2 separate regions of the Homo sapiens genome follow, and region 2 is linked to region 1. Evidence: fine-mapped expression QTL. A gene starts in region 1. The other region holds a variant in brackets. All regions are shown on one strand. Distances are between the middles of the regions.

The links. PIP is the estimated chance that this variant, and not a neighbour inherited with it, causes the effect. A credible set is the group of variants that fine-mapping cannot tell apart.
Region 2: its variant is the best candidate, but not a certain one, in a credible set for the expression of LSAMP in sigmoid colon (GTEx, PIP 0.71).

The regions. Positions count from the first base shown.
Region 1 is chr3:116,443,340-116,448,725 of GRCh38, forward strand. LSAMP (limbic system associated membrane protein) reads right to left here and starts at 2,148. Exons shown (of 7, transcript NM_002338.5): 1 at 1,538-2,148. The coding sequence starts at 1,692.
Region 2 is chr3:116,256,805-116,262,190 of GRCh38, forward strand. All of the region lies in intron 1 of LSAMP (limbic system associated membrane protein), which reads right to left. Among named protein-coding and RNA genes, the nearest start is that of LSAMP-AS1, 100 kb to the right of the region's middle. RefSeq lists enhancers at 1-540, 2,772-3,663. The variant C/A (reference allele first, on the strand shown) is at 2,477.

The sequences.
Region 1 (5,386 bases):
GAAAATCTGCTTTGGATAGTAGGATCTTTGGGATTCGTAATCACCCAAAGCTCAGGAAATGAAGAAAGGAGTGCTTACACATTAGCATTTTCTTACTTTTTACAATCTGGAGAAACACATACCCACACAACACACACACATGCAATGCACGGCACACAACACACACTTTCGTCTCTAACAAGGCTAGAGCTCCCAAAGCAGGACACTGTGACAGCCAACCAAATTTATTTCTGAGAAAAGGAAAGAAAACTTTGCTGCTGTCGGCAGCTCTGCTAGAGAACTGCTCCCTGATGCCCCAGGGTTTATGCACTATCAGCTCCTTGCACACAGATTAGAGGTTTATTTTCTATTGTATACTGTGTTTTTATTGCCACAACAAGCAATATTACCTAGATAGACAGACTGACACTGGGTCATTTTATTTGGAGGAAATGAGATTTTTAAAAGATCTCCAAGGAGAGTGATTCTTTCTTTTTGTTAGCATCTGCCAGAAATTCAAGGAAAGCTAGAAAAAAGAACAAGGGGTAGGTACAGTTGGTGGAGAGGAGGAAGAGAAAAGAGAAGCACAAAAAATAACCTTGGAGCATTTTAGAAATAAAAATATGACTAGGTCTCATTTGAGTCTCTCTAGCTCACAGTACCTGATAGGGGTCAAACTCCCAAGGACTTGGGACTCTTCTTTCCAAATTTCAATCTCAAATTATTTTAGAGTTTGCCAGAGCTGCACAGAAAAAAAGACTTTGAAGTCAATAATCAATTTGAAATATCCATTTTATGCCAGGTTAATTCTCTCCCAACCTCTGTGTTTAACACTCCTACTCTTAAATATCAGCAATTTGGCAAATTCCTTTTCTTTCTGCTCTTCATATCTTGTGTTGATTTATATCCACATTCCAGGAAAGGCTCAGTAACCAACCAAAGTTCTAAGATTGATTTATTGCCCTCCATGTCAATTAGAAGATCCTTACAGAAAGTCTTCTATCAGAAACCCTCACACACAACCTTGATATGTGTGTGTGTGTGTGTATGTGTGTGTGTGTGTTGGCATGAAAAACACACACACACACACACAGACACGGGAGGAGCAAGGAGAATGCAGTACTGTGTACTACTCTCTGAGAGCCATAATCCAACAACCTTTCTTTCAGAATTAAGGACCCCCAACAAAACTCTCAAGTGCAATGCCACAGCAATTACAATAGTGAGAATACTGCCCAGAAGTCACTAATGCCATGGGTGAAGTTAGGCTTCCTTGATAAGAGAAACAAGGTCCTAAGAACCGAACAACATTTAACCAACACCACTGCTGCTTGACAGGGACCAGAATTCCCTTGAATTTTGTTAGCTATAATGCCAACCAGTCAGTAAAACAGGGACACACACACACACACCACACACACACACACCACAAGCCTGCAGCATCAGGAGCTGGAGTTCAAGGAGATCAGACACACACACACACACACACACAAACACACACACACACACACACACACGTGTAGACGCGCGCAGCAGAAAAGTTGCCCGAAAGCCCTACCTGAGGATGGCTGTGTCCCCCTGCCTCACGGTGATGTTGTCCGTGCCTCGGTTAAAATCCACGCTGCGAACAGGCAGTCCTGTGGGAAGAAGGCAGAGCAATCTCAGTAGGACCAGTGGCAACTGTTTCCGATCCGGCTGAACTCTCCTGACCATGGTGGCCACGCCGAGGTGCGGGTCCGCGGGGTGCTCTGGAGGGGTGCGCGCTGCTCGCGAGGAGAGGCTTCACCAACACGGGGCTTTCATCCACAGCGAGCGCAGAGCGGGCTTTGCCAGTTTATGGTCCTTTCCACTTTGCCTCTCTCTTTCCCTCGCTCAGTCTCTTTTCCCTCTAAGACTTAACAAAGCCCTCATAAAACCCAAGCAGAAGGGTGAAAAGTAAAAGCAACACAATTTCAAAAGAGAGAGTGCAAATAGCAAGCCCTCTGGAAGAGCTGAAGAGGAAGCCAAAGGAAAGGGTTCTTGTTTGGTCTCTCTGTGACTGGATGCTCCTCTGCCAGTGTCTGAGCTGAGCTCCTTCGCTCTGTAACCCACTTTCCCAGGCTGGCGGGCGGGCGGGCGAGGGAGCCGGCACCAAGCCTGCCAGTGAGTGTACAGAAACAGCCACACAGCAGCAGCAGCAGCAGAAGCAGCAGCAACCCAGAGCCTCTCTCCCCCTCCTCCCTTTCCTGTTTCTCCCAGTCCCTGGCGCTCTCTCAGCTCAGCACCTCCCCCCCACCCCCCCACCCTCCCCCCACCCTGCTGGTTTTCAACAGCCCCTCCACGTCATCCCCTCCGCCCTCCCCTCGACGTGGCCCCTCGCTTTGCACAACTGCCCCCTTCAGCAGCAGCCAGCCTCAATGAAAGCCTGATGCGCCTTTGGGTTGTCAGGACGACAGCTCCATCTGAGGCCTGGCTGATTTCCTTAAGAAGGGGGAACGGAGCTTAGAGGTACTGTTCAGGAGAGAGGGGAGAAGGAGAGGGACTTAAGTTATAAAAGAACAGGAGAAAGAGTCCAGGAAAGGAGAGGGAAGGGGTGAGGAAAGAAGAAAAAGGAGGTGGGAAGGAGAGTTGCAAATGAGGGGAGTGGGACAGAGGACAGGAAAGCTTTGAGGTGGGGAGTGAGGGTGGGGAATGTCCTGAAAGATGGGAGAAGGAAACTGAGGAGAAACTTGACAGTGGAGTCTAAGATTAAAAGCCAAAGTTGATTTCAAACGAAACATTCTTGGCAACTGGCTTTGCGTGTTCAAGTCTTGTTCATTCTTTCCTCTTTCCTGCACTTTCTCTTACAGGATTAAAATGGTTTATTTTCTCTCCTTCCTTCATCCCCTCCCCCTCTTGGAACCCCTTTATGAAAGATGGATTGGAGACAATGCTGGTATTGAGTGGTCTGGGGTGTGAATGCTTGGCTTGTTTTTTCCAAGTGCCAGCCTCAGCAGCTGATCCCTGATCCCTAAATCAACTTCACTCTCCAGGAAACTCTCACTCAATCCTACACATGAGTAATGGTATTAAGGATTACTATTTAAAGGGCACATTGAATTGCTACCCAAGTTCCTCCTGGCACTTACTTCTCAAAATGTTCATATGCAAGGAAGGAGATTTGTAAATCAGAAAGCTTGTCATTTGCAAGGAGACACTAAGTAAGGTTGTGTGCAGTACTCCTGCTAATGGCAGACAGGTTACCATCATTTGTCACTCCTTTTATTCCATGAGCCAAGCAAGTGATGAGGACCATAAAGACCACTGATAGTCACTCAAGTGACAGCCCCACACTCTTGGACATCTCCCTCATTACTGATGTTGAGGATAAAAAATGTGTTTGTACCAGCCAAGGACTTTATTTTTCTCTTCTTTGATTATATTTATTTAAATAATGAAAGTATTCATATGGTACAAAAACCAAATGGTACAAGATGCTATAGAGTGAATTGCAGTTTTCTTCTTCTTTTTTTTTTTTTTTTTTTTTTTGAGACAGAGTCTCACTTTATTGCCCAGGCTGGAGTGCAGTGGCTCAATCTCGGCTCACTGCAAGCTCCGCCTCCCGGGTTCACGCCATTCTCCTGCCTCAGCCTCCCGAGTAGCTGGGACTACAGGCGCCCGCTACCACGCCTAATTTTTTCTGTATTTTTTTTAGTAGAGACGGGTTTTCACTGTGTCAGCCAGGATGGTCTCGATCTCCTGATCTCGTGATCCACCCGCCTCGTCCTCCCAAACTGCTGGGATCCCAAACTGCTGGGATTACAGGCGTGAGCCACGGCGCCCGGCCGTAGTTTTCTTCTTATTCCCGTCTTTAGGCAACCCATTTCTCTTTTTTGGAGGCAACATATATTTTAAGTTTGTTATATATCTTTCCATAAATATTCCATATATATAAAAATAAATATGTACATAGATATTATACCCATCCCTCTTATGTAAGCAAATGTTTAGCCTAGGACATTTGCCAAAAATAAAATAAAAAGAAAGAAAGAAACATGTTTAGGAATCCTTATCAAACCCCACCAGAGCACAAGCCTTAAAGAAACACTGTGCTGAAACTGGCTTGTCCTCAGAATACTCAAAGCACTTTTTCTGCGCATGTTTTCAGTTTAAAAGATAGATGAACTCTTACAGATTACGTGAGGAAAAAAAGGAAGACCTATTTTGCTTTTAAGAAAACACGGAGGATTGGAACCTGAATTGTCACAAATCCATGATTGATGGAGTTCAATTAATTTTATGTGTACTGTGCATTCATTTTATATAAATCAAGGTGTCCTATGTCAGGGATTATACACAGTGCCCAGTTAATAAACCAATGTTCGACCACTAAGTTATAACTCAGCTGTTTAAAACTTGGAATCCATTTTGCCATAGGAGAAATAGTTAGGCCAAGTGGATAGTTGACTAAAAAACTCATAATCCTGTGAATCCCGGTATCAATGGACAAATGAGCTTCAAGTGCCAAACAAACAAACAAACAAACAAACGAAGATCAAAGATGCAAGGATTACATAATTTTCTGCCAAGATTGCAGAGAAAAGAGCACCCTCCCTTTCCCCACACCACCAACAGACTTGACCATCCTTGTCAGGCTAATTTTTTTGTTTGTTTGTTTTGTTTTTTGTTTTTTGTTTGTTTGTTTGTTTTTTGTTTTTTTTTTTTATACTTTAAGTTTTAGGGTACATGTGCACATTGTGCAGGTTAGTTACATATGTAAACATGTGCCATGCTGGTGCGCTGCACCCACTAACTCGTCATCTAGCATTAGGTATATCTCCCAATGCTATCCCTCCCCCCTCCCCACACCCCACCACAGTCCCCAGAGTGTGATATTCCCCTTCCTGTGTCCATGTGATCTCATTGTTCAATTCCCACCTATGAGTGAGAATATGCGGTGTTTGGTTTTTTCTTCTTGCGATAGTTTACTGAGAATGATGATTTTAAGCACTTAGGAATGAAGAGTTGGCTTAGACAAAGGCTTCGATTAACATATATCCTTTGGTTTGGTGCTTCTTCCATGTCAAGTGGAAGAAAAGAGAGATAAAAGGGACTGGTAGCTATGAGAATCATCTGTTTCCATTGCTGGTGCTAGGTGAATAGTATGACCCCCAGTAAGAGCAGAGATACTCTGAGGGGAAGGATTAGACATTTAAAGAGTATAAGTATTCTCCTGTGTCAGTCAACTAGATTTTGTATGAAGAAAGGAAAGTTTTTTTCAGGACAAGGAGGAAGTATGGTGGCTGGTAGCATATCATAAACAGAAGATGTTTATACATGATTGTTAGCTAATACCTATACTGGTAACCTCATACTACCAGAAGAACTTGCCTGGTGGTGCTTGGAGAAAACATATGTTTAACATACTGTAATATGAAGTAATTTACAT
Region 2 (5,386 bases), 190 kb before region 1:
GAGGATGAATCCGATAAATCAGACCCTGACATCTATCCACTGAGTCACGTGTCATGAGTGGCAAAAGCTATTGTTCCACAGTCACAAAAATCAAGTCCTATTTTACCTTTCTTTCAGCTGCTGCACTCAGGCACAGCTAGCACTTTTTCCTTGCTTTCACATCTGGGGCTGCTATGCTTCGACTATCTGCTTCCAAACCCTATGCTGGAGGCACTTCTGGGCAAGACCCTGAGAGTGGTTTTCATGGGACGGTGTGTGCTCTTCAAAGGAGGTACACACTCCTCTGTGGCTTTCAAATTCTAATTTAGAATGGGAGGTCAGAGGATGCCCTTCAGCCTTAGATCTAGGTAGTGTTCTCTAAACTCCCTTTTAGCAGGGACCCAAGCGTTATAGTTACAGGGAAATTTTACTGACTAATGTAATTGGTAACACATTTACAAATGGAGTATGCCCAATCTGTGCATGTGTACTCCATCCCTCAGAAGGCTGGGAGGTGAAGGCATGAATAATAAGCCAAACACTCACTATGCAAAATGTTCTTTTTCTATTAAGTAGGGTTACTCTTTTCTTCTGTTTTTCTTAGTCCTTTTTCTCTCTTGTGTCTTTTCTGCTTTTTAACATTGTTTGGATAGTTTTCTTGAGCAGTCATACAAGATTCAATTTGTAAGAAGTATTCAAGGAATGGTGCAGTGTGACAGTTTTATGAAACAAATTTGGATTATAGGAAACAATAATGTTATTGCACTTTCTGACATAAAATTAAAGATTTTTTTTTTCTGAATATTTGCTGCTAATGATAAAATAAACAACAAAACAGAAAAAAACAGAATCAGCTTAGAAATCTGGTAGAGAATTATAATGAGCAATGTAATTTTTTTCTGGTTGCTTGAATTTAAGCTCTATGACCTTCACGGAAATTTCTAGTCTTGTTTATTCCTGTAACCTCATTACACCTACAGAGCTGCTGATACATGGTGGGTGCTCCATATAAATACCAGTTAAATCAGTGAATGGTTAAGTGAATGTTATTCTTTGTGTCATTTTTCCTTGTTGCACTTCCGTTATTGAAATTTTAAAAAAGAAGTATTCTTTGTTTTCTCAGTAAACATGGAAATATACTTTGACTTTCCTTAATGACTCAGAATTTTGCAGTGCCTCATTAAGTATGAGTAATATTAATTAACACTACAAAATTAATAACCAGGCAATTATCAGGTAAAATAGGAGGAATTAAAACTGATCCTCATTGATCTTAGCTTGTCACCCTTTTTACTTTTGACTGATTCTTTGATTTCAGCTTGTTTTCTTGTTCTTTATCTCATTCTCATAAAGGAAAGAAGAATGTGCAATTCTTTGGCCTCCTAAACTAAATTTAACACCATTGCCTTTCTACAAAATTGATGAGTGAATCTAAGGATTAATCCGTCTTCTCCCAAATTATTTTCCAACCTATATTATAATCTTTTTTTTACCATTTATATCAGTCTCCTTTGAATTCTCAGTAGCTTTCAAAATATCTTTTATTATCTGAGTATTACCAACAACTTATTTAAATATGGATGTTTCATTTAATTCTTCTGTATCTTTTTTTAAATCAGTTAATAATTTCCTCCATTTTAAAAATTAATGCTAGGCTAGTATATTAGAAACCCGTAATCTTTAAAGTAGTAAACAGAATGTCAGGGATGAATTTTTCTAAGCTTTTTTAAAATTAAATTTTAACAGAATTCTAAAAGAAAATAATATTTTAAAAAGATGATCCTTTATAATTGTGTACTATAATCAGGTGATGGAAATTTCTTTTAAGGAAATGTATCATATTCTAAGTAAGAGTGAGGTCCACAGTTTGAATCAATGAAGCAATAGCGGCCAATAGGAAAATTATTTTTAAAATCATGTGTTTGCCCTGCTTCCTGAAGGTGAACACAACACTTGCCTGACAGTAAAATAGAGTTGTTATTTTCAGATAGGCACATACTTCTAAAGTGACCTCTTATGATTCGTATAGTCATACAGAGACTGCTCAATTAAAAAGATAGAGGAGAGTGACGTCTATGCATAAGCTTGTACCTTCTTATCAAAAGGTTTACGTGTAACACTTGAAAACTATTGGGGAGATATTTTTCATCATTAAAAATACGTTTTAAAGAGAACCCCTACACATAAATGTACACATTCTGTCCTTGTTTCGCCAAATCTGTAGACATTAGGATTTAGCTTGACCCTACCCAAGGATTGTCTTTTTATTAAATCAGAACATTTCAGTTCATGAGTGGTGTTAACACTGTTCAACATATTCAGTAATTAGAACAGGAGAAATTCTACAAAATTGTTCAGTGGCTCTGCAGTCAGCTGTTAGATTTTCACAACCATACATTTAGCAATTTGATAACATGTCAGACTTAAAATGCCAAACTGATCTTACCAACAGTGCACATGCCTCAATCAATTGCATTTACTCAAAAACCTTTTTTAG[C/A]TTATTTATGAGACATTGGCCCAGAGACAGGAGTTAAAAACACTCATATAAAATATGGTTTGTTTGTTCTAACATTGCTCTAGAGGTATAAGACAGTATTTAATGGCTATACTTTGTTCATAAATGGTGAAGAATTTAGACCGGTTCATTTTCAGTCTTGACAGTCCACAAGATAAACTAAAATTGGAAAATTTCACCAAGGCTTACTTCTTATGCCCATTTTTAAAAATAATTATATGTGTTTGTGTCATATTTTAAGACTTATTTCGTTTTGCTAGATTACTTCTCTGTCTTTCACAACCAGAAGCCAATGTAATAATGATGTGCATGCAAGTAGTTTTAACTTAGAAGGCACTACATAAATGTGTGATGTGTGTAGCTGTGGTGCTGGTGGTGTTGGTATGCAATCATTTCGTAAAGTTGCTTGCAAAAATATGTTTATCTCCTATTGGTTGAGTGTACAAGTGACTGGATAATACTTTTGATAAGAAAAAGTCTCAACTAAAAAAACAAACAAAAAAACAACAAAAGAAAAACAGAGTGCTTGGGTCTTCTCCTTCTTAGCTCTCTGCCTTTATAACAGCTATCTTTATCCTCTGCAGCAGCATCACAGCTTGCTTTCTCCTCATTTTTCTCATTTTACCTCATCTCAAAATACTTCTTCTATCCTCACGCTATGCATCTTCCAGATTCTCTTTTTCTCTTTTTTCTACAGTCTTTCTTCTCAATATTCCCCCTGCAATTTCCCAAGTATGTTCCTTGGAGAAGTTACATTTCCAAGATTTGGTATTTGCCTCACATATAGGGCTAAATCTTTCATTTACATTCAGAAGATGGTTTTATGTGATTGTCTTTTTCTAAGGAAAGGAATGCTAAACTTTCCCTCCTTCTAATCCTTTCAATAAGGATCCTTCTTTACATTTGTATAGTAAATTTAACTTTCCAAAGGGCTTAAACAAACACACTTGATCTCATTTGATATTTACTGACACTGCCTAGTGGTAGGTAGAATTCTTTAATCTCCAGGAGTCTCTCTTCTCTCCAGTAAAAGCAGATTTATTAAAATAATAATAATTGGTCACAGGACCTCACATACACATTTTTTAAAATTTTCGAATAATATATAAATAATAATGAACTGCTATATTAACTTACTATAAACTATACTAATATATTATAAATGTAAAATATATAAAAATAGGAATAAAAATGAGTGAGATACAAAATACACAGGGTTTCTAATAATTTCTTCAAGTTCTCAGTGCATAATCTTTGGATCCTCTTTGAGACCACGGCATAATCTTCTAGGGCTTTAGTAACTGCACTTGGACACCTTCTAAGAGTGCTGGTTACCTGGAGGAGGTTGAGGGAGAGCTAGGATAGGACTTCTTTGCTGCTACACCAGCATAACTTCCAGGTTTCTAACTCTGGCTCCCTTTTCCTTGGCCTGGGTCCTCAACCTACGTGAGGCTTAGAGGGGAGAAAGCCAATTAGTGTGTATCTATGCCTTGAGGATAAAGAAGGAGAACCTAATCCTAAGACCTAAAGTCTAAGGCAGCATTTCCTTTGGGAGATTTAGACTTCAGCTAAGTGCTTTTCCTTGAGTGTTTGTTGATGAGGTAGAGGTGCAGGCAGAGATAGAGCATCACCTGGGAAAGGATGCAGCTGATTAACATTCTGGGCATGTAAAACAGTTTGTGCACAATTAACTTTTCTAAAATATATCCTAAGCTTTCAAATTATATTTTGCAAAGTGTAATTCTATCCTATTACCCTTAGCCACATACACCTTGGTATCACAGTACTGTAAATTATTCCTTTGCCTCCTTAGTGTTTACAACTTTCTGATATAGCACTCGTAGATAGTGATCATGCATATTCCTTCCTAGTTATCACAGTAAAACTAGGGCTATTTTATTCTTCTAATCTTTCCTCATGCACCCTAAAGTTCTTTAATCATTTTTGTTGTTGGTTTCTTCTTTCATTTCCAGTTATCAGCATCTTTCTGATCGTGGGGCATTCAAACCTAGAAGGGGGATGCCAGATTGCAGCTCACCTTACCTTATAAATAGGAGCTATAGGGTACAGGTTTCCTGTTCCATAATAGCATGTGTCTGTTGGGCCAGTGCTCTTATGCATTTTTATTATCTTGGCATCACATTGAATTATCAGCATGTCACCTCGCTATTTAGAAAGCTGTCATCTGATGCTCTCTTCTTCATAGCATTCTTCCACTTTAGCTCCATCTTTCTCATATCTTTGAATTCCATTTTCTTTTTCAGTTTTGCTTTGTTGAAAGTTATCTGTATTTTAAACAATTTTCTGATTAAAAAACAATTATTTATCTAGGAAATTAGCACAGTGTCCTGCATCCCATCTTTCTGAAGACTAAGTTCTTCAAAAAAATTCTTAGCCAACTAAAAGCAGATTCACAAAATGTGGCTGATCTTGGAAATCTTTCCAAAATGCTCTTAGATCATTCTCTTTTTCACTTGAATGTGTGTTATTCTCTATGTGACAGGTGTGTATGTGTGTGTATTATTGATATGTTATGCACATATATGTTATTATAATATAAAATATATACATTATATATTAATGCAATATATTAATAAATTCTGATATATATAATTACATATATATATCTGCATTCACATCTTTTTCTAAATTAAAGTAAGAGACCAGTTGAGCAAGGGTTTTTATACTTTATGTGGCTGATCTCTATAGCACAAGAATAATTTATGTAATAATTAATAAATCACTTCCCTATTGAGCCTAATGGAGCCCCTTCTTTACCATTTTGTTTTCATTTTTCCAACCCAAATTTGGATCGAAATATTCATATTTTCTTTGCTATTTTAGGACCTTTTTACCTAAATGCAATGACTATTGTATTAAAAAGAAAAGACA